Linked DNA regions of Homo sapiens. The protein of the gene in region 3 purifies or fractionates together with the protein of the main gene of each other region. This does not show direct contact. Each region holds a gene or a part of one and is shown on either strand. Other genes may lie near its edges.

What was found.
Region 1: the proteins of SNX8 (region 3) and LACC1 purify together in Homo sapiens (affinity purification with mass spectrometry; 2 studies listed by BioGRID and IntAct, with this or other methods). This does not show direct contact.
Region 2: the proteins of SNX8 (region 3) and POR purify together in Homo sapiens (co-immunoprecipitation; 3 studies listed by BioGRID and IntAct, with this or other methods). This does not show direct contact.

What each region holds. Positions count from the first base shown.
Region 1 is NC_000013.11:43,887,317-43,896,417, forward strand, and holds the end of LACC1 (purine nucleoside phosphorylase LACC1), read left to right. Parts: intron 1-1,440; coding exon 1,441-1,666; intron 1,667-2,797; coding exon 2,798-2,957; 3' UTR 2,958-2,958; exon of another isoform or gene 2,959-2,963; intron 2,964-4,132; coding exon of another isoform or gene 4,133-4,286; 3' UTR 4,287-6,616; downstream 6,617-9,101. UniProt on the Homo sapiens protein: Purine nucleoside enzyme that catalyzes the phosphorolysis of adenosine, guanosine and inosine nucleosides, yielding D-ribose 1-phosphate and the respective free bases, adenine, guanine and hypoxanthine.
Region 2 is NC_000007.14:75,972,182-75,983,753, reverse strand, and holds part of POR (NADPH--cytochrome P450 reductase), read right to left. Parts: intron 11,342-11,572; coding exon 11,293-11,341; intron 4,304-11,292; coding exon 4,175-4,303; intron 3,416-4,174; coding exon 3,266-3,415; intron 2,707-3,265; coding exon 2,582-2,706; intron 2,238-2,581; coding exon 2,148-2,237; intron 1,531-2,147; coding exon 1,432-1,530; intron 235-1,431; coding exon 118-234; intron 17-117; coding exon 1-16. UniProt on the Homo sapiens protein: This enzyme is required for electron transfer from NADP to cytochrome P450 in microsomes. It can also provide electron transfer to heme oxygenase and cytochrome B5.
Region 3 is NC_000007.14:2,250,696-2,259,439, forward strand, and holds the end of SNX8 (sorting nexin-8), read right to left. Parts: intron 7,109-8,744; coding exon 7,040-7,108; intron 6,883-7,039; exon of another isoform or gene 6,820-6,882; coding exon 6,670-6,819; intron 6,329-6,669; coding exon 6,179-6,328; intron 4,475-6,178; coding exon 4,361-4,474; 3' UTR 1,075-4,360; downstream 1-1,074. Other genes in the region: NUDT1 (oxidized purine nucleoside triphosphate hydrolase), read left to right, coding at 134-306. UniProt on the Homo sapiens protein: May be involved in several stages of intracellular trafficking. May play a role in intracellular protein transport from early endosomes to the trans-Golgi network.

The DNA.
Region 1 (9,101 bases), on a different chromosome or scaffold from region 3:
ACCTGAGTGCCTACCTTTTGAAGGGTATGAGTATGGAGTGCTTAAGGAAGGTGTAAGGGTACTCATTATTGGCCAACCATATCAGCTGAATCAAACCCAGATATAGGGAATAAAGGAAAAATGCAATATTCTTAGCTTTCTGTCTTTGGCAACAAGAAGGTAGCATAAGTAAAGAAGATGGTTTTATCTTAGAACACTGTAAGATGCAAGGCAGATAAGACAAAGATGGCAAGGGAACGATAGTCTGGGCAAGTGGGAAGGGAGTAAAAAGAGGCTGTTAATTGAAATATAATAGATATATTTTTGTAAAAAGGGAGAGATGAAAACTGCAAAACATTGCTGAAGGACATTAAAGAAGACACAAATAAATGCAGAGAAATTCTGTGTTCATGGATTAGAAGTTAGAGAAACGCAAATCAAAACCACAGTGAAATATCACCCCACATCCATTAGGATGGCTAATATTTTAAAACCTCAGAAAATAAGTGTTGTTGAGGATATGGAGAAGTTGAAATCCTGGTGCACTGGTGGTGGGAATGTGAAATTGTGTAGCCACTATAGAAAACAGTATGGCAATTTCTCAAAAAATTATAAATAGATTACCATATAATCCAGAAATTCCTCTTCTGGAAGTATATCCAAAATAACTGAAATCAGGAACTCAAAGAGATATTTGCACACCAATGTTGATAACACGATTATTCGCAATAGCCAAAAGGTGAAAGCAATCTAAGGTACATTGGTAGATGAATGGATAAGCAAAATGTGTGTGCATACAATGGAATATTATTTAGCTTTAAAAAGGCAGGATATTCTGACACATACTACAATATAGATGAACCTTAAGGACATTATGCTAAGTGAAATCAGTCAGTCACAAAAAGATAAATACTGTATTGATTTCACTTATATGATATACCTACAGTAATCAAATGTACAGGAACTGGAAGAAGAATGGTGATTGCCAGGGGCTGGTAAAAGGAAGAAACAAGGAGTTATTGTTAATAGTTGTAGAGTTTCCATTTTATCAAATGAAAAAATTCTGGAGATTGGTTATACAACAATGTGAGTTCAACACTACTGAACTGTATACTTAGAATAGTATTTTTTTGTGGTTATAATAGTAAATTTTGTGGGTTTTTAACCACAATCTTTTAAAATGTGAAAAATAGAAGACTAAGAAGCTATGATCTCAGTGGAAACTAAAAGTATAGAGCATCTTTAAATGGAAGATGAAGAAAACTCCCATTACATGTCTCTTCTGTGTCAGGTGCTTTGTGTAGTATGGCTCATTTAAAAACCACATGATAATGTAATTTATTATTTCTGGACTTTGAAAAATATACAAACTAAATCTGCTCACTTTTAACTTAGACATAAATTCAGGTGAAATTTTTTATGTTTTGACTTCTCTTATCTCTTTTTATTCCTATTTACCAGGTTGGAAAGGTACTTTGTTGGGTGTTGCTATGGCTACAGTGAATGCTATGATAGCAGAATATGGCTGCAGTTTGGAAGACATTGTTGTTGTACTTGGACCTTCAGTAGGACCTTGCTGTTTTACTCTTCCAAGGGAATCAGCAGAGGCATTTCATAATCTTCATCCTGCATGTGTACAACTATTTGATTCACCAAATCCCTGTATCGACATCCGTAAAGCCACAAGGTATGTCTGATTTCATTCAACTGCAAGTTTGATTATTTCTGATTGTTCTAAAATGAAATTTATTTTGGAGAACAATTAATAACTCTAAGAAGAATTTAGGTGGTGGTTATTTAAGCAGCTGACATGCACATGTACACAAACACTCATTTTAAATATGAAATCTGTTTTCATTTGAGTTTGAATAACAGAAATTTTCCTGTCTGGTATCTTTCATTGATTTAAAAGTGAAGGAAGAAATATTTGGCATTTAATTTTAAGAGATCTACTTAAACTTCATATAGAAAAGTTGGCGTGTACTTTACTTCACAGCCATTCCTCAGCTAAATTCTCCTAAATGTAATGAACTATCAGGAAGCTGATATTTTAAAATTATTCTTATTATCTAATTAACTAGAGGAATATGTTTTTTAGAAAAAATATTAGATAATATAAATACACGGTTTTTTACTTTTAAGTTTTTTACAGTTCTTCGCATCTTTTAATTTACAAGGTTTTGTTATTAATAACTGGTGAAAATTATTTGTCATTACTACAAAGGCAAATTAATGTATGTTTTAAATCATGTTTCTATTCCAGTCGCCAAAACTTTACCCAGAGTCTGCCTCATTTAGTACAGATGTGGAAAAGTTTGAAATTGATTCTTAAATGTGACTTTTAAAATCAAGTATCACTAACTTGTAGTCATATTTCATATCATAAAGTGTTCATGGAGAAGCAAGTTTTCTGAGAAAAATCTGGCTAATAGAAGGAAAGGAGATGAAGGGCCAGATGACTAAAAAGCATACTCTGGCTGAGCCAGGTGAATTTTGCCTGATATCCTGGTAACTTTTGTAGACATTTCTTCTTAAATAAGCACTTGATTTTGATTATAAAATTCTGTACCTAGATTATGTCTATAAGACAATATGGAAGGTTGTACTGTGCATATATGAACTTAGGTGATAAATGCTGATAAAGTGTAGCATTTTTTTCCCTGACTAGTCCATGTTCTGTAAGTGAATAACAATATACATTGTTCTAGGTACATCTTTCCTGGAACTTTTTCATGCCAACATCCATACTTTTTTTCATATTGCTTTGGCTATTGGGAAAATAAACTCTTGCTCTCTTTTGAAAAATATTTTTCCTAAGGATTCTTCTAGAACAGGGAGGAATTCTTCCACAGAATATTCAGGACCAGAACCAAGATCTCAACCTCTGTACATCTTGCCATCCTGACAAGTTTTTCTCCCATGTCCGAGATGGCCTTAATTTTGGTACACAGATTGGCTTCATATCAATTAAAGAATGAGGTACAGTAGGTTTTCTCTCCTCTCTCCGTTTTTCCTCTCTTTCATCCCTCTCTCCACTTCTCCCTCCCTTTCTCTTTCTTCCTCTTTTAGCCTATTCCTCCCCTTATTTAAAAAAAAAAAGTTAATTATGTTAAACTTTACTCCTTTATTCCTACAGGGAGAATGATGTTTCTACTTTTTTAGTGATGTAATAGTGGTAGCAACGTTCATTTCCAATAACACTCTATTATGAAGAGCAGCCACTCCTTTTCCTAGTTAATGAAGAATAATTAGGCAGGCTTATGTTAAAAGTATAAAAATAAAACAATTTAATCTTTAAAAAGGTATGTAAGTATTTCCTTTCTCTCTACTATGTACTTGATATCTGTACATTCCCTATCCTCACATCCTTATAACTTTCATGTTATTTTTGAAAACAAATCTTTGCATAAACATTCTGAATTCTAGAATCATAAGAAATTCTCACAAAGAAACTAGCTTGATTTTCAACTAGATTTCCAAATGATTATCTGCAGTTGGAGTTGCCCAAATTTTTATTTTAAAATGACAGTAAGTAGTTTAGACTTTGTGGGACATACAGTATATCTCAGCTACTCAGCTTCGCCATTGTAGAGGTAGAGCAACAAGAGATACTGACAACATAGAGATGAATGAATATGTCCGTGTTCCAATAAAACTTTGTTTACAAAAATCAGGCGAGGGAGCCAGGCACAGTGGCCCTGCTCCTGTAGTCCCAGCTCCTCGGGAGGCTGAGGTGGGAGGACTGCTTTAGGCCAGGAGTTTGAGTACAGCATGGATAACATAAACCCTGTCTGTAAACAGTAAAATAAACAGGTAAGGGGCCAGATTTGGCCTATAGGCTATAGTACACTGACACATGATCTAAAGTCATACAGCAAGACTGAGTGTAATTTTCTTAAAATAGTATTTATTAGAGATGGTTTTGTTGGAATTATACAAAAATATTTCATGGCACTGATTTAGCACTGCCCCTATAAGATATGTGTAATTTTCCCTAAGGTTACTTCTAGCTGAATTAATATTATTTTTTACTCTTTACAATGTTTTTAGCTCTTTAACTTACAGAAAAACTTTAATAGACTTCATGACTCTTACCTTGATATTCTAATAACACCAGTAAGCGTCTCATATTTGATTTCTATGTATTTTACAGATACTTGACTGGATTTTTGTATAACTGCTTCCTGCCTCCTTCCAAACTGACTGCAAGAGAGAAATTTAGCTGTTTGATTTACTTAAAACCAAATGGATTACAATGGATAATTCATCTTTTGGGTATATTTTTACTATTATTCAAAGCCAAATGATTTTCATTTAATTGTAATAATAACTGACAAAAATCAGTATGTTGTAGCTAATATGTTTTATGCATGAGAATTATTCTTAAAGTTTGTTCTCCCTGTTTATTACACAGATCAGGAATAGATTTGTTCAGTTCAGTATTTATTGGATACCCTCTATTGGTCAGGCATTGTGTTAAGCATATGTGAATCAAAATGAACACAACTTTTTCCTTTGAGTCTGATACAGTGAAGGAGATAAACACTTCTACAACTTAAATTTAATTTTAATAGCAGTAGAAGAGAACATAAGGAATAGAGGTTAATTTTACCCAGAAGCAGGATAGAGAAAATATTACAGAGAAAATCACATATCACATGGGCTCGAAAGATGTAGAGGTTTTTGACAAATGAAGAACAACCATAACAGGTAGAGGGAACACCATGAACCAGGGCATGAAACTGAAAGTGCATAACATATTCTAGAGAGAGAAGGGTGTGGGCATGAGTTAGGGCTGGAAAAACAGGTTGGAAACAGATAAGTAAGGGTCTCAAATGCAATGTCAAAGAGCTTGCAGTTTATTTTCCAGGCAATGAGTAGGCAGCCAAAAAAAAAAAAGTAAGGATGTTTTTTTTTTTTTTCCCATGGCATCATATTTAAGAGGATGGATTTAAATTGTGTGAGACCAAAGCATAGAGACTAGATAAGAGGCGATCAAAATATTTCAAAAAGAAATAATGAAGATCCAATGAAGGAAGTGGAAATTAAAATAGGGAAGAGAGTAGATGGATTAGAGAGACATTTAAGAGATGGAATCAATAGATCCTGTTACTAGATAATGGAAGTAAGAGGTGAGGAAGAGTGGAAAAGTCATTAATGACTCTAAGATTTCTGCTTGGCTGCTTACCAAGATTGGCAACAAAGGGAGGGAGAAGGTTTGGAAAAAGAGAGAAGGATAATGAGTTTGACTTTACATAGAATGAAGGGCATCCAGATAGAAATCTTTGGTTAATAATTAGAAATATAGACCTAGAAATTAGGAGGAAACCTGAGACAGAGACAAATATTTCAAAGCTTACAATACAGAGATGATACCTGATTCTATTGGAGCAGGTTTGATCATCTAGGCAGAAATTAGGATGAGAAAAAAGGAGATCCAATAATACAACCTTATAGTCACAGAAGTAAGAAAAAAAGGGTAGTTGTTTTGAAGAAGCCAGGATAGGTGTGGAAAGTACTCAAAAAGAAATCTTCAGGGATAAAATAAAGTGATAATTTAAAAGAAATCAATGGATTAAACATATTGAAACTGTTCTATAGGCAGTGGTCATTGAGTCAGCTTTCAGTGCATTAGGAAGAAGATGCATAGGTGTCAACTCTTTTCTGACAGCATTTACTAGAGAAGAGAAAAAGCTGGGGACTACATCTTCAAGGAAGGGACTTTTTTTGGATGAGCAGTTTTGAGTGTGTTTGTCAGTTAAAGAGAGGAATTAGGTTAGTTTTCATTTGGGAAAAATTGTATATATATTTAATGTAAGTTATCACATTGCATCTTAAAAATATTCTTATTTAATACATATATTTCCTACATGTATATGTGGTAGCATGATAGCAAATAACATTTGTTTGGTATTTCCAAAGGACTTTCATGTACATTGCCTCATTTTACCTTTACAGCTACTCTGAAATACACAGGCATTATCCCTTTTATTCAGCTGAGAAAACTGAGCTTCATTGAGGTGGAGGTCAAAAATCACAAAATTTGTGATGAATTAAGATTTGAACATATGTTTTGTGACTCCAGTTTTCCTTTCAGATTTTAAAATTAATTAAAGGGATCTTCATTATACTTTTATTGTTAACTTTTTGTTAACATAATTTATTCATACATTCAGTGAAAATTTTGTTGAGGTACTGGGACAGGTTAAAAAATACAGTTGTAGCCCTCAGGATATTTAATATCCAGTGAAAAGTGACAGTCAGTAAACCAACAATCTCAATACTTTGATATATGTTGTGAGGTTGTGATAACCGATTCTTGTTTAGTTTAATTCTATATCTCCCTTAGACCAGTGTTAAATTTAAATAAAACACCTCATTTTTTCCAATTCAGGGAAGGCACTAAACATAAAGCATAGGATAGAAATGTTGAACTCATCCAAAATATTATTTTGTTTAATGAAAATGATGAAGATTAAGGAATACTTCCATGTATTGAGTAAGGTTGATAATTTTCTAATTCTTCACTGTGCATTATTTTGTTTGAAGTTGGTAAATTTGGAGTATCCTGCAGACACATTTTGCTTTATGTACTACAACATTCTACAACCAAATAAAAATTATTTTGATTATCTGATTTTGGATTATCTCTGCCAAAGTATATAATGAAAGGTTGTCTCCTTGCTGCTTTACTGAATGAAAAGTGTTGATTTAGTAACTCCAAACTATCAGGTTATTAAATAATCATCTTATTGTGTCTACAAGATAGCTGTCACTCTCACATATTTGTATGTAGGTTTCTAGGACTTTTGGGGTACAACAACAAAGATTTCTAGTAAGTTTTGTTTTTGTTTTTAATTTTATTTTAAATTTATAAATAACAATGGTACCTATTCATGAGATACATAATAATGTTTCCATTCATATAATGTACAGTGATCTGACCAAGGTAATTAGCATATCTATCATTTCGAACATTTTTCTTTGTGTTACGAACATTTAATATGTTCCTTCCAGCTATTTCAAACTATATAATATACTATTGTTAACTATAGTTATCCTACAGTGGTATAGAACACTAGAACTTATTCCTCTTAAAGTTTTGTTTTTAATCTAAGCACTGCTACTAACTGCACATAGGAAATATTGATTGCTATTTTATTAATAAGGGGAATTAAGTTTGTAAGTCAAATAAACATTAATGAAATACCTTTTTGAAAATACTATCAAACTAAAACTTACTGGGCCATTTATCCAACTGTAATTTTAAATTGTGAAAAATAGCACAGTGGCCAAATATGCTATACCCCAGTGCTTTATAAAACAAATAAGATGACCTTACCACTAGGAGGTGGTATTTCAACAAGTAGCTCTACTATTATTTCTTGGTATAAAGTTGAACTAATCTTTTTTTTTTTTGAAAAAAATCAACTTTATTTTTTCTAGGTTTAAAAAAATAGAACCAGCTATTAATTTTTGTTGAGAAAATGCATCTTTTGGTGTTCACATCTAAATTTCTGAAAAGGTGATCTGGTTACTAAAATCATCCCAAATACATTCATAAACCAGATCCACGTGTGACCAGCCCTTTACAAAAATTAATTACAGTTGCCACAGCCTTTACATTCATTCTTATCACACGTTACAACATGCAGATAACACAAAGAAAGGTCAACAAGCTGAAGTAAACATTACAGCATCAGGAAAATGAAAACCCATCTGTATAAAATAAATACAATTTTGTAATAACTGTAAAGAAAATGAAAGCACTTAATAAAAATAATGGCAGTTGAATGTATAACTGTCTCATCTCCCAATCATAAAATAAGTTACTGTAAAATGCATAGACTCCTTACACTTAAAGAATTTGTGCATCACAGTCATGTGAAGTTGAACTAATCTTAAACTCTGTATTTTCTTGTGGAATAAAAAGGGAGGGGAGGACGCATTTAAAGTTAGTGAATGTATTGCTCTTACTTTAGGTATAACGTGGTAGTTCAAGTAGATAAAAGCATTTAGGAACCCTCACCCACTTCTATCTCACTCCTACAGAATCTCTAGTAATTGCTTTTCTGTAAGTAGATTTTTGGGAGAAACTCAGAGAAGCTTATTCTATGTAACATGACAAAACAGAAATAATATCTATATATTCAGCAGCTGGAAGGAAAGATAACAGTGACATACGAGTTATATGCTTTTATATCTCAAAGTGGGATTTGATATTTATTTTTACTTGATTGTCCTAGAGTTATACTTCCAATGTATCCATCTTACTTTTTGTGTGAACTCTTAGAGAATGCTACCAATCTATGAAAGTTCAGCACTTTAAAGAAAGCATTACTCAGTTATTGTGTGTTATCGTGTTTGTATGCATGAGTCTTTGTGTATGTGCTAAATGGCAAATAAGAAATATGTGTGTTAAATATGACACATAGCCTTTTTGCCCTAGCTAATATAAATTAACACACACATAACACATTGGATGCAGTAGAATAATAGATTTCTCTCTATAGATTTTTTAATAAATTATGCAGTAAAGAATGGAAAGCATGGTCCATATGCTTACTGGATGTGTTTGTGTGAACCCTGATCTAGGGCACGTGCATTTCCATTGTAGGCAGTGTTTTTAAAGTTTACTTGTGATTTCAAAGATTGCCATAAGCAATGCATTGTTCTGTGCTAGGTCATTGCTTAATGAAGAAAAAAGAAATCTGCCAGTACTGCTTTTTCCAGATTAACACGTTTGGTTTGAAGTCACAGTGATTACATGTCAACTGTGTTGAGACAAACTTTTCATACTCTCCTTAGATGCATTTTTGTAGAGAAAGAAATGCTTACATCACATTCCCCATGTCCTTTTGCCAAGCGCCTGAGGTGAGCTATGTCTCTGCTGTATTTGGAGCAGACTTTTTGTTTTATTTAATTCTCAGAAGGTTGAGGTGTCCAGTTACTACATTTTGTTAAACAAAATTTCCAGCAGACACTATAGCTCAAAATACCACATTCCTTTCTAACCAAAAACAAAACAAAAGACAAAAAAGGGGAGTAAAGGGAGTACTCTCATTTCATGAGAAACATTTGTAGAAAAGAGATTTGTTCATGGTAACAATTGGGTTTTTAAT
Region 2 (11,572 bases), about 74 Mb from region 3:
GTCCCCAGATTCATACCTGGAGGGAGATGTGAGGCTCGGGAGGGGCGGAAGGCTGGCCCTGCCCCAGGTCAGGAGGCCCAGAGTGAGGGTTCAGGGGGTGACAGTGGCAGCTGGTACCTGATTTTGGAGTCCGAGATGTCCAATTCCAGGTGCATGAGGTGGCGCTCGGTTCCCTGGTTCAGCTTCCGGTTGGTGGTGACTGCAGCCAGGAACGGATTCTTGGCATCAAAGGGGCTGGGTGGGGAGGAGAGAAGCACAGTGAGCGGCCGGGGCTTTGATCTGAGTCTCCGTCTCCAAGGACGCTTCTGGTTGCACAAAGCACAGGGAATCTCAGAGATCTCCATGAGGAAATCTCACCGGTTACATCAAGGGCTCTCCCAGCCTGGTCCAATGCAGTTCTCTTTTTTTTTTTTGAGACAGAGTTTCGCTCTGCCACCCAGGCTGGAGTGCAGCGGCGCGATCTCGGCTCACTGCAACCTCTGCCTCCCAGGTTCAAGCAATTCTCCTGCCTCAGCCTCCTGAGCAGCTGGAATTACAGGCATTCGCCACCATGCCTGGTTAACTTTTATATTTTTACTAGAGACGGGGTTTCACCATGTTGGCCAGGCTGGTCTTGAACTCCTGACCTCAGGTGATTCACCCACCTCGGCCTCCCAGAGTGCTGGGATTAGAGCTGTGAGCCACCTCGCCCAGCCCTAATGCAGTTCTCTCTATAGTCCCACCACATGGGCAGAGCTGGGTCATCAGTGTCTGTTTACAGATGTGGAAACTGAGGCTGGCCCCTAAAAGAACTGTGAGGCCCAAGCTGACGGTGCCACAGGCTGGAAGGTGGCTGGTCCCCAAATGAGGAGCACAGCTCCCCCACCCCCACACGTCCTGGACTACACCGTGGACAAGAGAGAAACTTGCACTCCGGAAAGCCACCGACATGCAGGGCTTCTCGCTCCAGCCAGGCTGGGGCAGGCCTACAGAAAGCAGGGCAGCTGGTCTTGGATGCAGTGGCACGAGGACTTCCCTGGGTGGCTCGGGCAGGAATCTGGGCAGCAACCAGGGGCCATCAAGGGCACAGAGAGGAACGCCAGGTTTCTCCCCCAAGTCTATCTATGGAGATAGATTCTAAGAAAATGAGCCCTTCTGCCAAAGAGGATCCTAGCCACAGAGGCCAATGCACTGTCCTAGTCGAGAAGTGGGATGTGCCCCGCTGCCCTGGGCAGTGCAGAGTAAGGTGGCTAAGTGAGCTCAGTACAAACTGGGCGAGTGCCAGTCTCCTGGGGCCGGGCCGTGGACAGGTCGTGGACACTCACACCCACTCGGGGCACGGGGTCTGGTGAGAAGGGCCCTGTGGGGATATGGGGATACACGGCAGACTGAGCCTGGGGTGCACCAGTGGCCATAGAGCCGTCTGCCCCAAGCCACGCTCCCTCCACTCACGGCTTCTGGTTCTCGTAGCTCTTCAGCCGGCCCATCTCCCCCATGTACACCTTGGCCGCATCTATGTCGGTGTGGACCACAAGCTCGTACTGGCGAATGCTGGAAAGGGGAGACCAAGGGTGAGGCCGGGAAGCGGCAGGGGTCAGTCCCGAGAGGGAGGGGTTGGACTACAGGGGAGACCGTGCATGGCCTTTGGGGTGAGGTCCCAGGTACATACGACAAGAAGCAGGGGAGCCCCTGCTGCAGATGCACAAGGAGGGCAGGCGAGGGAGCAAGGAGGGAGGCGGCGTGGAGCTGCCGGGGGCCAGACGCCCAGAAGCCGGGGCAGGGCTGGGCAGGCTTCCATCTGGGAGAAGGTAAGGAAGCCCGGGCAGCACCCAGGGGCCATCAAGGGCACAGAGAGGAACGTTATGTTTTTGGCCAAGTCTGTGGAGGCAGATTTTAAGGAAATGAGCCCTTTTGCCAAAGTTGAACCTAGCCACAGAGCCCGACGCGATGTGTCCTTGTCGAGAGGTGGGATGCACCCCGCTGCCCCAGGGCAGTGCAGAGCAACGTGGCAGAGTGAGTCCTTGGCTGGGACCAAGGTCCCTCCTCGACCCTATGACGGAGTGTCTTCTAACCTTGCTGCGACCCACTGCCAGCCCTTGTTCCAGGGTGGCTGCCCTCGGCACAGGACCCGCCCAGGCCACCCACCGCACCTGCGGGCACTTGCTCACCTGGACTCCTCGCCAGTGGCTTCCACCCCAAAGTGTTCACACACGGCCGGCCAGAACTGCTCTCGCCAGGTGATGAAGTCCTCCTCCAAGCTGGGCCGAGGAGAGGAGAGGGGGAGCGGCTCAGGGGAGGCCCATGTGGCAACGGTACCTGGTGCCAGGCACGCCCCGACCCCACCCCATCCCCAAAGCTCAGGACTGTGCACCCTGGGGCACCCAGCGACATAAACCCAGAGCATCAGGAAGGCTCCAGGGAGTTGGGCAAGCCGAAAAGCAAAACTGGCAGGGGCAGGGCAGAGGCAGGAGAGCCCCTTCCCTCTGTGTTGGAGGTGCGTGTCGCTGAGTCTCAGCTGACACAATGGTGTGCGCGCCCCTCACGTTCCACGGCCCCTGCCTAAGCCCGCCGCGCTGATCATGGTGGCAGGGTGGGCACTCACTTCCCATCGTCGTCGCCCAACCCCAGCTCAAAGATGCGCTGGGCGCCGAGCTGCTCCAGCCGCTTGTCCACGTACTTGCCCATGGCATTGAAGTGCTCGTAGGTCTTGTTCCCAAGACCAAACACCTGCGTGGACACAGGGGCCGCTCTGAGGCCTGGCCCTCGACCTGACCAGTGGGAGGGGCCATGGGGGCAGGGCGGGAGGCCCCACAGCACTGGCTGAGCTGCTGGCAACACCTGCAGGCCTCCGTTCCACCAGGCGCCTCGCACTGCAAGGAACACTGGGCCACTGAAGAGGCTTCATCTGGTTGACCTGCAGCCCACAGCCTGCCCCGTCCACTGCCAGCCTCAACCCACAGGGAAGCGGGGCCAGCCCACCCTCCCCACCGGGCTGGGGCTCCAGCTCTCCGAGGCCAGGCAGGTCTCAGTCGTCCAGCCAGACCTTTCTTGCCTTTAGTCTCCAGCACCCAATGCCCCCTGGAGCCGACTGGGGCTGGGGACAGGGAGGGGACATTCTCGTAGTGCTGGGGTCTGGGGCAGAGGAGAGGGTCTCACAAGTGGCCTGCCCTGGCTGCTGAGGACAGGGTGGGGGTCTGGAGGGCTGCCTTTCAGATACATGGATCTGGAGTCCCCAGGGAGGCACCGCAGGCCACCGGGAGCCCATAGCAGTCTCTGGGTGACTCACCGCGAACTTGACCCCAGAGAGATCCACGTCTGTCTCCTGCAGCCAGTCGTAGAAGTCCTGGGCATTGTCGGTGGGGTCTCCCTCACCGTAGGTGGCCATGCAGAAAACCACCAGGGCGTTGTCGATCTCTGGCAGGCTGCTCAGGTCGGCCTGCAGAAACAGGGACAGGACCGCGCCCCGGCCATGACTGAGCCTGTTCAAGGTTCAACCCGCACCAGATGGGGAAGGCCAGGTCCTGCCCAGGGTGGCACCAGGCCAGGGATGTCTGAGTGTCGTGGGATCAGAGAGAAGTAACAACACGGAGGGGCTGGGGCATGGGCATTTGTGCCAGGTGGGCAGGACAAGGTCACCCGTGTTAGGCTGGAGCGGAGAGGATGTGTTTCTAGAGGAAAGTGAAGCTTGGCACAAAAGAGCCATCAGAATGCAGCCTCCTGAGCTGATGCAGGTCTGGGGCCACCCTGGGAACCTCATTCCAAAGCTCCCAGGCACCGCACAGCCCCGGTGCACACTGATATCTAACTAAACTGTTCATCAACTGCAAATGCAGCCTGGAGAGGGCTGTGGGGTAGTGCCCGTCACCAAGACCTCGAAGGAGAGGGGAGTGGAGCAGCTGGGGAGGGTGGGTTTGGTTTGGGAGATGTGGCGGCCGCCAGGAGGGCAGCCGGCACTCAGGGGAGGGCCAGTCCTGGGGAAACGATGCCTGGCACGTGGCTGCAACTGCAGGAATGGCCCTTCCGTCAGTCAGCCCGGGCAGGGATGGCAATGACCCTCACGGGAAGGCAACTTCCGAGGACGTCTTCCCAGGACCCCACTCCCTGCCGGCCTCCCCCTGCTGAGGGGCGCCCTACAGACCTGCTCCCTGTCCTACCCACTGCCTCCATCTGGGGCCAGCACGCGGTGGCAGCTTACCAGGTCATACTCCTCAGGGTCCGCTGACATGCCTCGCATCCCGTAGCGGTGGGCGTCCTTGGACAGGCGGTTGGCAAACTCCTCTGCAGTCCCCGTCTGGGAGCCGTAGAACACGATGATGTTCCTCCCCTAAGGAAGGCAGACACAGGGTTGGTGAGGGCCACAGACCTCAGCCACGGCTCCGGTGAACACCCACTGGGCAGGCCTGGCAGGCGGGGGCCCTCCAGGCCGCCCCCTTTCCTTCCTGGCTTTGAGTCCCTTCTAAGTTCCTCTGGGACTTGCTTCTCACTGTCACAGCCACTGTGGCAAAGGAGGGCAAAGGTCACCAAGGCAATCTCACACACGCGGCTGCTCAAGATCACACTTCTGACATTTTCATGACACGGGGAAAAAACAAAGTTAAAAAAAGTAACCAAATGTATAGCCCCTATCCGTGGGGGAATGGTTCCAGGACCTCCCATAGATACTTACATCCAAGGATGCAGCCGGGCGTGGTGGCTCACACCTGTGATCCCAGCACTTTGGGAGGCTGAGGCTGGCAGATTACCTGAGGTCAGGAGTTCAAGACCAGCCTGACCAACATGGTGAAACTCCATCTCTACTAAAACTACAAAAATTAGCCGGGCATGGTGGCGTGCACCTGTAATCCCAGTTACTAGGGAGGCTGAGGCAGGAAAACAGCTTGAACCCAGGAGGTGGAGGTTGCAGTGAACTGAGAACACGCCACTGCACTCCAGCCTGGGTGACAGAGCAAGACTCCACCTCCAGTGGCTCACGCCTATAATCCCAGCACTTTGGGAGGCCAAGGCGGGTGGATGACTTGAGGTCGAGAGTTCAAGACCAGCCTGACCAATATGGAGAAAACCCTGTCTCTACTAAAAATACAAAATTAGCCGGGCATGGTGGCACATGCCTGTAATCCCAGCTACTTGGGAGGCTGAGGCAGGAGAATCGCTTGGACCTGGGAGGCAGAGGTTGTGGTGAGCCGAGATCGCGCCATTGCACTCCAGCCTGGGCTACAAGAGCAAAACTCCATCACAAAAAAACCCAAAAAACAAAAATCCAAGGATGCTCAAGTCCCTGCTATAAAATGATGTGGTATTTGTGTGTAGCCTACACACATCCTCCAACATACTTTAAATCATCTCTAGATTACTTATTAATGTAATACTTAATGTAATGTAAATTCTCTGTAAATAGTTGCTATGCTGTATTGTTTAGGGAACAGTAAGATGACAGTATGTGTTCAGGACAGACACAACAATCCATTTTTTCTCCAAATATTTTCAGTCTGCAGTTGAATTCTTGAACTCCGAACTCACGGATATGCAGGGCTGGCTATACAATCCAATTGTGTTATATAAATAATAGATATGTATATCAAAACATACATATGTATTTTCTTTCTATACCCACAGGCACAAAGAAAACAGACTGGCAAGAAATATACCGAGGGTCCCTAAATGGGGCATTCTGGATGTGTTTTGCTGGTTAAATACATATTCATTATAAAATTTTACAACAGGGAAAGGTCCTAGGGGCTGGCTCACATACTCGTCAGTCCACCCTCCTCCTCCAGCAGCTGTTGAAAAGCCTGAAATCCTATTCCCCAGAGCCCGTTGGGGCTGGAGTTGCAGCCAATTCGGTTCAGCCAATTGAACGTGCTTTGCAAGATCTGAAGGGTGGAAGGGAGGCCAAGGCTTCCTGGCCCCTCATGCACATGTGAGGTTCTCTGCAGTGCCTGGTCTTCAGTGCCTAAGGCATTTTTCTTTTTTTCTTTTCTTTTTTTTATTTTTGTGTGTGAGACGGAGTCTCGCTCTGACGCCCAGATTGGAGTGTAATGGCACGATCTCAGTTCACTGCAACCTCTGCCTCCTGGGTTCAAGCAATTCTCGTGCCTCAGCCTCCTGAGTAGCTGGGATTACAGGCACCCACCACTATGCTAGGCTAATTTTTTTGAATTTTTAGTAGAGACTGGGTTTCAACACGTTGGCCAGGCTGGTCTCGAACTCCTGACCTCAGGTGATCTGCCCACCTTGGCCTCCCAAAGTGCTGGGATTACGGGCGTGAGCCACCGCACCCAGCCACCTGAGGTATTTCTAATAGTTTTGGTAGCCAGACTGCAAGTTCCTAGTCCTGGCTACTGGCTTATGTGATGTTCAGAGGCAGCTGTAGAAGTAGCTTCTTATCCTGGATCACAGCTACACGTGGTGTGTCCTGAACTCAACAGTTTCAGGCTGCATTCGAACAGAGCAGCTACCTTGCAGGTTGCTTCTGTGATATCTTAGAGACCAACCTGCTCCTTCAGCCCCTCCAGTAACCTGGAAGTACCCCCTTCCCTGTGTGAAATCCCTTCCAGATTAAAATGCCTAAAGTAGTCTCTAGTTTTCACACTGAATCCCACCTCATACAAAATAAAACTTACGCGGCCGGGTGCCGTGGCTCACTTCTGTAATCCTAGTACTTTGGGAGGCCGAGGTAAGAGGATGACTTGAGCCCAGGAGTTTGAGACCAGCCTGGGCAACATGGCAAAACCCTGTCTCTACTAAAAATACAAAAAATTTATCTGGGTGTGGTGGCGCATGCCTATGGTTCTAGCTACTTGGGAGGCTGAGGTGGGAGGATCACTTGAGCCTGGGAGGTTGAGGCTGAAGTGAGCTGTGATTGAGCCACTGCACTCCAGCCTGGGTGACAGGAGTGAGACTGAGTCTCAAAACAAAACCACCACCAAAAAAAACTTAGGGATTACAATAAATGTTCTTATACTTTTTAAAGTTCCTGAATTTTCCACAAATCATTGTTAAATCATTAAAAATTGTTTTTTTTTTTCTTGAGACAGAGTTTTGCTCTTGTCGCCTAGGCTGGAGTGCAGTGGTGCGATCTCGGCTCACTGAAACCTCTGCCTCCTGGGTTCAAGCGATTTTCCTGCCTCAGCCTCCTGAATAGCTGGGATTACAGGTGTCCGTCACCATGCCTGGCTAATTTTTTGTGTTTTTAGTAGAGACAGGGTTTCACCATGTTGGTCCAGCTGGTCTCAAAGCTCCTGACCTCAGGTGATCCGCCCGTCTCAGCCTCCCAAAGTGCTGGGATTACAGACATGAGCCACTGCACCCGGCCAAAAGGATTTTTTTTTTTTTTAGATGGAATCTTGCTCTGTTGGCCAGGCTGGAGTGCAGTGGTGCGATCTTGGCTCAATGCAACCTCCGCCTCCCGGGTTCAAGTGATTCTCCTGCATCAGCCTCCCGAGTACCTGGGACTACAGGTGCATGCCACCACGCCCGGCTAATTTTTGTATTTTTAGTAGAGACAGGGTTTTCGCCCAAAAGGATATTTTAAAATAATCACCGTAAAAATACTTAATAGAAGAGAAAGTGCTCATGATTATCAGGTTAAGAGAACAAAAGATGACCTAAGATAGCAGCTAAATATTTACAGGAGCATCAAAATATATAAAATACCTAGAAATAAACTTTGTAAGAGATGTGTCAGAAGCTACTGAACTACACACAAAGGACTCACGCCAATGGAAAAGCACCCCGATTATGGACAGGGAGTCTCGACCCACAAAAATGGCAGCTCTATTTATGTCACTAGAGAAATGTGGCATGATGTAATAGAAATCTGAACCAGCTGGGTGCAGTGGCTCACACCTGTAATCCCAGTACCCTGGGAGGCCACACCAGGAGGACTGCTTAAGCCCAGGAGTTTGAGAACAGCCTGGGCAACAGAGTGAGACCCAGTCTCTACCAAAAAAAAAAAAAAAAATCTGAACAGCTTTTTTTTCCTCAACAAATTGATCCTAAAAGTCACGGAAAAATAAGTAAGAATCCATATATTAAAACATTATTTGGCAATAAAAAGGAAGTACTAACATATGCTACAGTGTGGGTGAACCTTGAACACGTTGCGCCCAGTGAAAAGAACCCAGAGACCCAGCTATTATTATTATTATTTGACACAGGGTGTAGCTGTTGCCCAGGTTTGAGTCCAGTGGTCACTGCAATCTGTGCCTCCCAAGCTCAAGCTATCCTCCCACTTCAGCCTCTCAGGTAGCGGGGACTATAGGTGCGCACCACTGTGTCCCACTAATTTTTCTATTTTTTGTGGAGATGGGGTTTCGCCATGTTGCCCAGGCTGGTCTCAAACTCCTGGGCTCAAGCGACCTGCCCATCTCGGCCTCCCAAAGTGTTGGGATTACAGGCATGAGCCACTGCGCCCAGCCCAGGAATTAAGTATATGATAAAGGTGGCATTTCAAACCAGTGGGGGAAAGATGGACTCTAATACATGGTGTTTAGACAGCTATGTAAAATGTAGAGTTGGATTCATACCTCACATCTTACATCAGGATAAATTCCCAATAGATCAGATTTTAAATTTTGAATATGAAAAACAAAACCCTAAAAGTACTAGAAAAAAAAAATACAGGAATATCTTTATCTCTTTAGCATGGGGAAGACCTTCAAATTATGACTCTAAGACCAGAAGTCACGAAAAGAAAGAATCATATAGGTGACTCTGTAACTTTTACACAGCAAAACAAATAAAAATGCGATCAGCTAGGTTGAAAGACAAACTTTTTTTTAAGAGATGGAATCTCACTAAAAGACAAACTCTTTAACGGGCAAGATATTTTCAACTTATATCACAGACAAGAGATTCATCTCCCTAATAATTTCAAGGAGAAAGATCAATCCCAACAGAAAAGCAGGCAAAAGATGTGAAGAGAGAATCTATTAAAAAAAGAAAAAAGAGGCTGGGTGCGGTGGTTCAGGCCTGTAATTCCAGAACTTTGGGAGGCCAAGTTGAGTGGATGACCTGAGGTCAGGAGTTCGAGACCAGCCTGGCCAACATGGCAAAACCCTGTCTCTACTGAAAATACAAAAGTTAGCCAGGCATGGTAGCACGCACCTGTAATCCCAGCTACTCAGGAGAATGAGGCATGAGAATTGCTTGAACCCGGGAGGTGGAGATTGCAGTGAGCTGAGATCACACCACTGCACTCCAGCCTGGGCAACAAAGCGAGACCCTGTCTCAAAAAAAAAAAAAAAAAAAAGAAAAGAAAAAAGAAAAAGAAACGAAGCCATCTAGACCTAGGTGGGTGAAAATCTACTGAATCTCATTCATAAAAATGTAAATTACAACTATACTGAGTTTTTTTTTTAAGCCTAGAAAACTGACAAAAATCTAAACTTTAATAACAAACTGTTGGCAAGGCTGTGGGGAACAGTTTTCTCACACGTCGCTATTCTTGAGCGCGTGCCACGGTGTGACTCCTACGGGGACGATTTGTAGCTTCTATCACGATTGCAAACACATCTACCTTCCAATCCAGCAATTCCACTTCTGGGACTGCTTTGTATTTGAAATGTGCAAACCGAGCTACATATTCACAGTGACATTGTTGGTAAGAGCCAAAGAGTAGCAACAGCCCCAGTGCCCATCTTTAATAGGACAGGGTTAAGTGCGTTACAGTGAATCCAGATGGCCATATAATGGAATCATGGTACAGCTAAGATGATGGCAGTATCTTTGTATTGATATGGAAGGATCTTTGAGACATATCAAGTTGTTTTGTGTTCTTTTTTTTTTAAAGCAAGGTCAGCCGGGCGCAGTGGCTCACGCCTGTAATCCCAGCACTTTGGGAGACCGAGGCAGATGGATCACGAGGTCAGCAGTTTGAGACCAGCCTGGTCAACATGGTGAAACCCCGTCTCTACTAAAAATACAAAAATTAGCCAGGCACGGTGGCAGGCGTCTAACCCCAACTACTCCGGAGGCTGATGCGGGAGAATCACTTGAACCGAGGAGGTGAAGGTTGCAGTGAGCCAAGACCGTGCCATTGCACTCCAGCCTGGGCGACAGAGCGAGACTCTGTCTCAAAAAAAAAAAAAAAAAAAAAAAAAGCAAGGTCTGGAACAGTGCACATAGTATGCCACGTTTTGTGTTTTAAGAAAAGTGTAGGCTGGATGCAATGGCTCGCACCTACAGTCCCAGCACTTTGGGAGGCGGAGGCAGAAGGATTGCTTGAGGCCAGGAGTTCAAGACCAGCCTGGGCAACATAGCGAGAACCTGTTCCTATGAAGAATAAATTAAAAAATTAGCCAGGCGTGGTGGTGTGCACCTGTAGTCCCAGCTACTTGGGAGGCTGTGGTAGGAGGATGGCTTGAGTCTAGGAGTTTGAGGCTGCAGTGAGCTATGATGGCGCCGCTGCACTCCAGCCTGGGCAACACAGTGAGACCCTGTCTCTAAAATAAAATAAAGGTTTTTTTAAATTAAAAATAAGAGTCTCTGTTTGTTTTACTTGTATGTTCATACAGGAACTCTAGAAGGATCCATAAATAATAAGAACAGTGGGGATGAGTGGGTGGCAGAGGGGAGCTTTCCACTGAATAGTGGATGTTTTTATTTTAACTATGTAAATGTAGTACTGATGCCTACAATTAAATAGTTAAATTGGCTGGGTGCGGTGGTTCACGCCTGTAATCCCAGCACTTTGGGAGGCTGAGGCGGGCGGATCACCTGAGGTCAGGAGTTCAAGACCAGTCTGGCCAACATGGTGAAATCCCATCTCTATTAAAAATACAAAAATTAGCTGGGCGTGGTGGCACGCACCTGTAATCCCAGCTACTCGGGAGGCTGAGGCACGAGAATGGCTTGAACCCGGGAGGTGGAGCTTGCAGTGAACCGAGATTGCGCCACTGCACTCCAGCCTGGGTGACAGAGCGAGATTCCATCTCAAAAAAAAAAAAGTAACAAAAACAAAGCGGAGAGAAAATGGCAGTGGTGCCACGACCGCAGCTCTGTGAGATTTACCTCTGCTCCTGGACAGGCCAGGGCCAGACGGGAGAAGCTTCGTGAGTTAGAGGGAGGGTCTGTTCTTAGACTTTGGTTTGTTCAAAAAGTAAAGATTCAAGGAAACAAACTGTCCCAGCAACAGCAGAGCTGCTTCAGGGCTTTGGTTAGGCAAGAATGACTCCCAAGCGAGCCGGGCTGCGTTCCCTCTCCTGGCCACCGGGACATCCTCTATGCGGTGACGCCAGCCGTCTGCTAGACTTGATTACATGCCCATCGGGGCCGAGGCTTCCTGAGAAGAGTAAAGACATGCAGGAAACTCACCGTTTTCTTCATCTTTTCCACAAAGCTGCTCTCTCTGACAGAGGAGGTCCTGCAAGACAAAAGTGTGCAATGAGCGTGGGAGGCAGGTGTCATGGGACACAGGTGTCACGGGACGTGGGTGTCCTTAGATGCAGGTTTCATGGGATGCTGTGGCAGCACAGGGAGGGGACATTCCAGCTTTGTCCCGTGCCACTCCCCAGGGGCTAAGCCAGCAGCTGGCCTCTAATCCAACACCAGGGCTCCCAGGCCTCCCGCACCAGCTCACCCTTCCCATTTCCCC
Region 3 (8,744 bases):
GATCCTCCCGCCTCGGCCTCCCAAAGTGCTGGGATTACAGGCGTGAGCCACCGCGCCCGGCCAAAAAAAACATGTTTTTTAAGCATGAAGTTTGGGTTGCACCTCAGTGCCTCCTCTTCCCCCATTGGTACAGAAATGCGCCCATGCTGGTTCCAGCTGGATCAGATCCCCTTCAAGGACATGTGGCCCGACGACAGCTACTGGTTTCCACTCCTGCTTCAGAAGAAGAAATTCCACGGGTACTTCAAGTTCCAGGGTCAGGACACCATCCTGGACTACACACTCCGCGAGGTGGACACGGTCTAGCGGGAGCCCAGGGCAGCCCCTGGGCAGGAGACGTGGCTGCTGAACAGCCGCAAACCATCTTCACCTGGGGGCATTGAGTGGCGCAGAGCCGGGTTTCATCTGGAATTAACTGGATGGAAGGGAAAATAAAGCTATCTAGCGGTGGTTTTTTTTTTTTTTTTTTGGAGATGGAGTCTCTCTCTGTTGCCCAGGCTGGAGTGCAATGGCACGATCTCGGCTCACGTCAACCTCCGCCTCCCAGGTTCAAGCGATCCTCCCATCTCAGCCTCCCGAAGAGGTGGGATTACAGGCGCACATTGCCACACCCAACTAATATTTGTCTGTTTAGTAGAGATGGGGTTTCACCATGTTGACCAGGCTGGTCTTGAACTCCTGACCTCAGGTGATCCACCTGCCTCAGCCTCCCAAAGTGCTGGGATTCCAGGCGTGAGCCACTGCACCCGGCCGGTCTCTAACCTTTCAAACGTTCTTCTCCAGACACCAGCACAGCCTGCCAGGTCCCGTCCACAGGAAGCTACCAGATGTGCTGGGCTTCAGCCCGCACTGCTGCACAGAGGTGGGAGAGGATGGAGACTCTGTCCCCGAGGTGGGCAGCTGGCCCAGGGCAGAGACACACATGCTCAGTGCCACAAGCTGGGGATGTGTCCTCTTAAAACCCCCCTGCACAGTGTGGGAAGCTGAGGCTCGGCCAAGGGCTCTGGGCTAAAACCCAGGTTGAACGCCTCATAGGCTAGTCCCCTCCCCTGCCCAACTTTCATACACGTTTAATAACAGTTGTTCACACATGTTTATTGATAAACCGTCCAAAATGTAGGTCATGTGTAAACAATTCCAGTTGTTGGGTATATTGGGTATTGATCCCTGCAGCCTCCTAAAGTGCTTTGGACATGAACTGACCCGCAAAGCAAGGGCAAAGGCCTCAGATGCACAGAGCTGCCCTGACATCCCTTGGCTCGGAGTCCCTGTGCCCCATGTCAGAGCCCTAAACCTGTCTCCCCTGCCTGCACTGTGTCCGGCAGACAAAGGGCAGCTGTCTGCACGGTGACCCCGAGTACCCAGGACACGGACCACGAGGACCCAATGAAAATGTCCCCTTTCACCATGATCGGCAGCCCCCTTCCCACAGCCCCGCCAGCCCACAACCCCCCTCCCACGGCCCCGCCAGCCGTCCTCACAGGGCAGGCGGCATCTGGCATCTCCACCAGCATCACACGCAGCTGTCCCTGCCAGCTAGGCAAGGCCGTAATGACCGGCACAAGCTTGGGCTTGGGCCGTGGGCAGCAGGAGGGCTGGAGAGGCATGGGGGGAACCCCGCTCTCCCTCCGGCATGGGGCCTCCACCTGCAGCAGTAAGCAGCCTCTCAGCCCCTGAGCCTGGGGACCTGCCCGGGCAGCACAGGGCCAGGGCCAAGAAGTATTTGTGAGAAGGAAGGTGGCCTCCGCCACCCCTGCCTAGCAGGCCTCTTTCTGCTGCCCTTTAGAAGGCACTGGGTGGCAGAGGAGGAAGGGGAGGGAGGTGTTCCAAAGCCAGTGCCCACCCCTCCACAGAGCCAACCCCAGGGCACACAGGAAGCAGCCACCACACGTGGGAGACAGGCTGCCCTCGTCACCGCTGCCCTCCAGCCCCCCCTTCACCCTGCCCTCCTGACCCTCCCACCCCTGCCTTCCTGCCCCCCCACCTCCCTCCTGCCTTCCCACCCCTGCCCTCTTGCTCTCCTCACCCCTGCCCTCTTGCTCTCTCCTCACCCCTGCCCTCCTGCTCCCCCTCACCCCTGCCCTCCCTTACCCGTTCTCCTGCTCCCTCCTCACCCCTGCCCTCCTATTCCCCATCACCCCTACTCTCCTGCTCTCCTCACCCCTGCTCTCCTGCTCTCTCACCCCTGCCCCCTTGCTCTCTCACCCCTGCCCTCCTGTCCCAACGCCTGCCCTCCTGCTCCCCCTCATCCCTCTTCTGCTCCCCCTCACCCCTGCCCTCCCTTACCCCTGTTCTCCTGTTCTCCTGACCCCTGCCCTCCTGCTCCCCCAACTCCTGCCCTCCTGCTCCCTCCTCACCCCTGCCCTCCAGCCTTCCACCTCCATCCTCAGCCTCTGGACATGAGGACCCTGAGACCCTGCTCTTGAAGTTTCCAACACAGGGAGATGCCGCCAGGTATGTGGCCTCTCATACACTCACTGACCCCGGAGTCCCTGCCAGGAAAGCTCCTTCAGAAAAGCTCATTCTGAAGTCTTGCTCAATCCTTGGGGGCTGTCAGGAGCGCGTGCCTTGCCTACTCTGGAGACACAGAGGCCCCAGCACCTGATGCCCTCCACGACTCCCCACAGCCTCTATGGTCCTGCAGCTGGACAGGCCCCAGGAAGGTGCGGGGTGGACGGAGAGGCCTTGCAGCCTTCTGCCCACACGGGGTCACGCTTCATGGCTCGGGTGTCATGGTGCCATTCATGGCAACTGAGAACCTGTCTCTGCAGAGGGGCGTCAGAAGGCAGCGCAGCCCAAGACTCGGGTGGACTAGGGACTCACGGGACAGCCCACCCATCGGGCTCCAAAGGGAACGCTGCCCTCTGCTCATCTGGCCAGAAGGAAGCAGCCCACCTCACAGCAGGAAGGCAGCAGCAGAACCCACAGGGCAGGGCAGGCTGGGCCCGAGCCCCACAGCCACCGAGTCAGCACAGCCCACGGGGCCAGAAGGCACGGCCGTTCCCTCTGGCCGGCTCGCAGTGGACGATGGATCACCTGCCTGCGGGGCACACACAGGAGTCCCCTCTCCATCCCACGGCCGTGAGCTGCCCGTAGGTACAGGCGGAAGGGAAGCACCCTCCGTGAGAGGAGTGAACGCCCCAGAGGCCAGTGAGCATCTGCGGAGCGGAGGGACCTCGGAAACCCTGGAGCCCGGCGGGCCTCTTCCAGCACCCCTCCCCGGCCAGGGAGGGGCGTCAGGCTCCGGAGAAGTGCAGGGGTCCACTGGGCTCCCATGTACCTTCCACAAAAGGGGTTCGGGCAGAAGCAGACCCAGGCCTGAGGCGGACAGTCCAGCCCCACAGAGCTCAGGAGAATGGCCTTCTTCATCCAGAGCAGGGAAGGGGCCTGAAAGACCACTGGTTCCCTCTGTGAGCAGGTGGCTGGGCCGGCAAGTGCGTGACGGGAGGCTGGGAGGAGGGCTCTAGGTGCCTCAGAGAAGGAAATCCACTTAAAAGGGGGCTGTCCCTCCTCTAAAGCCTCAGCTGGAATGGAACACGCCCCCCCACGCCCCCACCTGTCCTCTGCCAGCCCATCCAGCCTCAGTGCCACACGGTGCAGACCCCAACACTGGCCACCAGAAATCAAGGGAGTCCAGGGGACGAGAACACAGCTGCTGTAGCGCCCACTCTCAGAGCCCCAGCTCTCCGTCACGCCTTTGTCTTCCAGGCCTGGGCACACACAGGGTCATGGTGTGGACACAGGCACACATGGGGTCATCATATGGGCACAGGGCATGAGGCCACTGGACCCCACAGGCCACTCCCAGACCAGGGCTCCAGGTGTTGACTGCAGCAATTTCCCTAGAAAATTCACCGTGCGTGCCCCACGCCCAATGGCCCTCCCTCCCAGCCTCAGCACCACTGGCTGTCCCCTCGCTGTCCGTGGTCAGTCCCATGCCTGGGCTGCAGGGCAGCCCTGCCCTCTCTCCTCGGCTGACCGAGCACCATGATGCTGCCCCTCCCGACTGTTCCAGCACCTGGAGGCCCTGCCTCCACGCTCCCCCAGGCACAATCTCTGTGAGATGAGAGATCCCTGCCTCCCCGCACAGCTCTGGGTGTCAGGAGGAAACCATTCCAGAGAACCCCACCACCTCTCTCGACCAGGCTAGCAGGCCACAGGGCGAAGGACAGTGTGGCCCAGCTGCCCCCATGGTCCACGGATGCGCCTCCCGACCCGCAGGCGTGAGCTCCTCTGCTCCAGCTGCAGCACGGGGCGTGGCGGGGAGGGGAGCTGCCGTCCAAAGGGAATTACACCGGGACACACCGTTTGGAAAGAGGTTTTAGTGCGGCCGCAGGGAGCACCACCTCAGCCTCAGGCGCTAGTGAGGACACAGGCCGTCCTCCGGCGGGGAGCACGGTGGGGTCAGGGTGCTGTGTGGTCCCGCAAAGAGGCAGCTGAGCTTGGGCCTCAGGTCGTTCCACACCTTGCTCATCTGAAAGGGAAGCGAAGAGAACAAGATCAGCAGGCGGGGCCGGGGCTCCTCCTCACGCTCTGATCCCAGTTCCTTCGCCTGCCAGTGACAGGGAGGGAGGGGCCCTCAGGTGCGCCAGCTCCTCAAACCTCTGGCAGAACCAGTGCTGCCCATCCTGCACAGAGGAAGCCCAAATGAGGAGTGGACCAGCGACATGTGACCTGTGGTCACAGACACCCACGCTTCGATCCCTGCACCCAGGACCAAAGGGCTGCAAATCTGCCTGCCGTGGAATCGTGAGAAACGTTACTATCGCGTCACTGCCAGTACATGCTCTAGCTGCCGTGCGGGCACTGGCCTCATGGAAGCCTTGGCAGGTCAAACACCAAGGCCAGCCTGGGCAACACACGGACACCCTGTCTCCACAGAAAATCAGAAATATGAGTCGGATGTGGTGGCACCTGCCTGTGGTCCCAGCTACTCGGGAGGTTGAGGCTGCAGTGAGCTGTGATTGCACCACTGCACTCCAGCTTGGGTGACAGAGCAAGACTCCACCTCAAAACCAAAAAGCAAACCAAAAACACAAAGACCACATCCACCAAATCAATAATACCCAAACCGGAATGCAAACGGCGGCCCCACTCGCCAAGCACTTTTGGAACCAGGGCAAGGAACGGATGCTGTGGATGTGAGGAGGGGAGCGCGGCAGTGAGGCAGGGGTCAGGCCAAGACCTGCCGTGCAGGGGCTCAGGTGGCCAGAGAAGGGCAGGGCGCACCCTGGGGGCCTGCAGGGGAGGCTGAGTCACTGGACCACAGCGCACACAGCATCACAGGGCTGGAAATTCCTCACCACCACAATAAAAAACCTGGTAGGACTGGGGTTATGGCATCATGCTCCGGGCGCCTGTTGGTCCCATTCCTTCACTGAGGACACACCCGGCCACTCACATGTCCAAGTCCAACCTGGTCCCTGAGACCCTGGCCATCTCACAGTGATGCTCCTAACACGGCGGCTGTCTACCGCCTCTCCAGCCCCACCACGGCCGCCTCCAGCCTGCCATTCCCAAAGTGCTGGACGGCACCCACGGCACCAAGCACCTCCCGGGGACAGTGTGGAATCTCGTGACCACCCCAGACACTCGGTGCCATTCCACACACACCACAGACCATGGCTTGAAAGCTACTTGCAGCTACTTAATAAACTTAATTTCAGCCGGGCACAAGGTGCTCGCCTGTAATCCCAGCGGTGCTGCAGTGAGCTGGCCACCAGAAATCAACGGAGGCCTGTCCCAGGACCTTGGGAGCGTTTCTTCTCCCAGGCTGAAGGAACCGCCATCTGCTCTGGAGGAAGCCGGCCAGGGCTCTCTGGAAGAACAGCCACCTGCGGCGCTCCGAAGCGCTAGAAACCTTCTCTCAGCCGCAGGGTGCGGGAGCTCTGCGGGCTTTACCTCCGACTTCTCAAATCCCTCCAGGAGGCAAACTCTCCCTGTCTGCTCCTCCCTCCGCCCCCCAGGAATCACAGGGACACCCTCACGATTCTGATTTTGGCTACACAGGAGACTAGAAGATCCGGGCGAGCACCGTGTTCCAAGGCCCATGCGGAGCCCAACTCCACTAAAGAACCTCTCTAGGGCGGCCGGCCACCGCGCTGCCGGGCTTGAAGGAAGGGCGGAGGGACAAAGAAAGGCCGTGGCCGAGACGGCGGCCGGAGCAGGGCGGACTCACCTCCTTGTGCCCTTGGATCTGAGAGTTGACGAAGGCGCGGAGGATGTGGGAGGTGAGGGGCAGGTAGACGTGGATGAGCTGCGTCTCCTGGTGCAGGCAGTACAGGGAGAAGTAGTTCCGCAGCTCCATCGTCTGAATCGCGTTCTCCTGCTGCGGAGCAAACAGCCGCCTTTCGCACCCGGCCCAGCCGGCGACGGGAGCACCAAGGCCCGAACACCAGCGTGCTCCCTGAGCCAGGGCGGCCCCTTCTCCTTCAGCCTTCACCAGGCATTTGGAAGGTGGCGAGGTAAGAGAGGGCCGGGGAGGGAGCACCGTGCAGGGAGCCGCATCGCTCTGGGCACGCGGGCCAGCTCCCTGCCTCCACTGCACCCCCAGCTCTGTTCCAGACACAAGGAGCCAACCCAGGGGAGCCCACCAGGACGGCTCCGGGTCCCACCATGGCCGGGAGGGGAAAGGCTCCCACGGGCCTGCTCGGCCGCCCCGCCACCCACCTCCACAATGCGGGACTCCAGCTGCTCCACGGACTCCGGCTCGCGGTTCTGCGCGGTGGCGCTCATCATCTGCCTCTTCATCAGGCTGTACTTGTGCAGGGCCCGCTGGTGCTTGTGCAACACGCCCTTCTCATGCCGCTCGCACAGGTCCTGCGGGGCCGGGGGAGGCATTCGCCCGCTGTCTGGATGCCTGCGCCAGGGCCCTGCGGAGCCGGCCGAGGGAAGCACCCCCGCCAGACGGAAGGCCCCGTCTTCCCCTGCAGCCCTGGCTTCTCAGCTCCTCTTCCGTCCCCCAGGAGTTAGACCCTTGAAGGATCCTAAGATCATTCCTGAAAGTTCTGCCCCCAGCCAAGGAGCAGCCAAGACTCACCTTATAGGACTGCAGCAGATCCAAGAAGAGGTTCAGCTTCTCCACCACGTCGTTCTCTTCCTGCTTACCCTGGAAGGCGAGGGGGAGCTCACCCACGCGGACGCACATAGGACCCGGTCCCTGCCCGGGAACTCAGACCCAAGCCTGGCCTGGGCCGGTTCCTTCCTCCCAGAGTCAGACGGGCTCCCCAGGACCACCAGCCAGGTCTGCAGGGGGCCCCCTTCCCCACCAGCCCACCCATTACCAGGCGGACACGCCTTCGAGCCCAGCAGTCTTTTTTTTTTTTTTTTTTTGAGTCGGAGTCTTCGCTCTGTCGCCCAGGCTGGAATGCAGTGGCACGATCTCGGCTCACTGCAAGCTCCGCCTCCCGGGTTCACGCCATTCTCCTGCCTCAGCCTCCCGAGTAGCTGGGACTACAGGCGCCCTCCACCATGCCCGGCTAATTTTTTGTATTTCTTTTTTTAGTAGAGACGGGGTTTCACCGTGTTAGCGAGGATGGTCTTGATCTCCAGACCTCGTGATCCGCCCGCCTCGGCCTCCCAAAGTGCTGGATTACAGGCGTGAGCCACCGCGCTGGGCCTGGCCCAGCAGTCTTGATGGGAACAAGGCCTGCGTTCCCGCGGGACAGCTGCCCGCCCTCCTGCTCATCAGCCCGGCCTGCCTTGCCTTTCTCAGGCCTTCGCAAAGCCGGCGACTCTCCCAACACATATGCTGGGAGAGCCAGATGCCCCAGACCCCCCGACCCCTAAGGCTCCATCAAGCACTGCAGAAAACCCGAGTTCCCATATAACGCTGTGAGCCGTGTGCAAAACGGGCACGCCCAGGAGGGGCACGGAGGAGAACAAGGGTGTTGTCTCCGCATCAGTAACAGGAGAGAGAAACGCAGGCCTAGGAAGGGGGCACAGGGAAGGGGGCGCAGGGTAGGTAGGAGAGACAGCAGCTGCAGGAAGGACGTGCTGCTGATCCAGGAAGAGAGGCGGCCGCCCCAGGCTGCACGCAGAAGCACCACACTCGGCGGTGGGGGCAGCGGTGGACACAGGCTCCTCTTCGGCCCTCACACAAGGCTCTGTGCGGGCAGCACAGCCACAGAGAGAGCCCAACAGGGCAGTGAGTGCACAGCAAACGGCGGGCAGCCCTGGAGTGGAACAGGGGCCCCATCACGGCAGAGGGATGCCCTGCTCCCAGAGTCACCACAGCACCTGGGGACACGAAGCAGCCCCCACGGGCGAACCCCACCCAGACGCTGCCTCGGCCTCCCCGGCTTACACCAGTAGCAGCCCTCGGTGGGGGCGCAGGCCAGGCACAGTGCACACGGCCCGAACACACGGTGCTCAGAGGCATCTGCGGTATGAAGAGTCGGTCCAAAGCCCTGGGCTCCAGCTGCCACTGAGGGGAGCATCCAAGCTCTGGAGACAGCAGGGGTCTGGGGAAGGCAGCGGAAGCGGCAGCCCATCCACCCCTGACCTGCACAGCTCACCACAGACCCCCCAGCCACAACCGCAACCAAGCCAGGCCGATGGCAGGTATCCTGGGGAAACCCCCGACACTGACGCCTTCAGTCACACCCGGGCCCTGAAGGGCTCCGGTCCCCACAGCTCACGCCCTCAGTCCCCACAGCTCACTGAGCACCTCGGGGAGACCAAGCTCCCTCCACGATTCCTCGGGCTCCACCCGTGGTAGGGGGTGAAAAGCTCACCCCACGCAC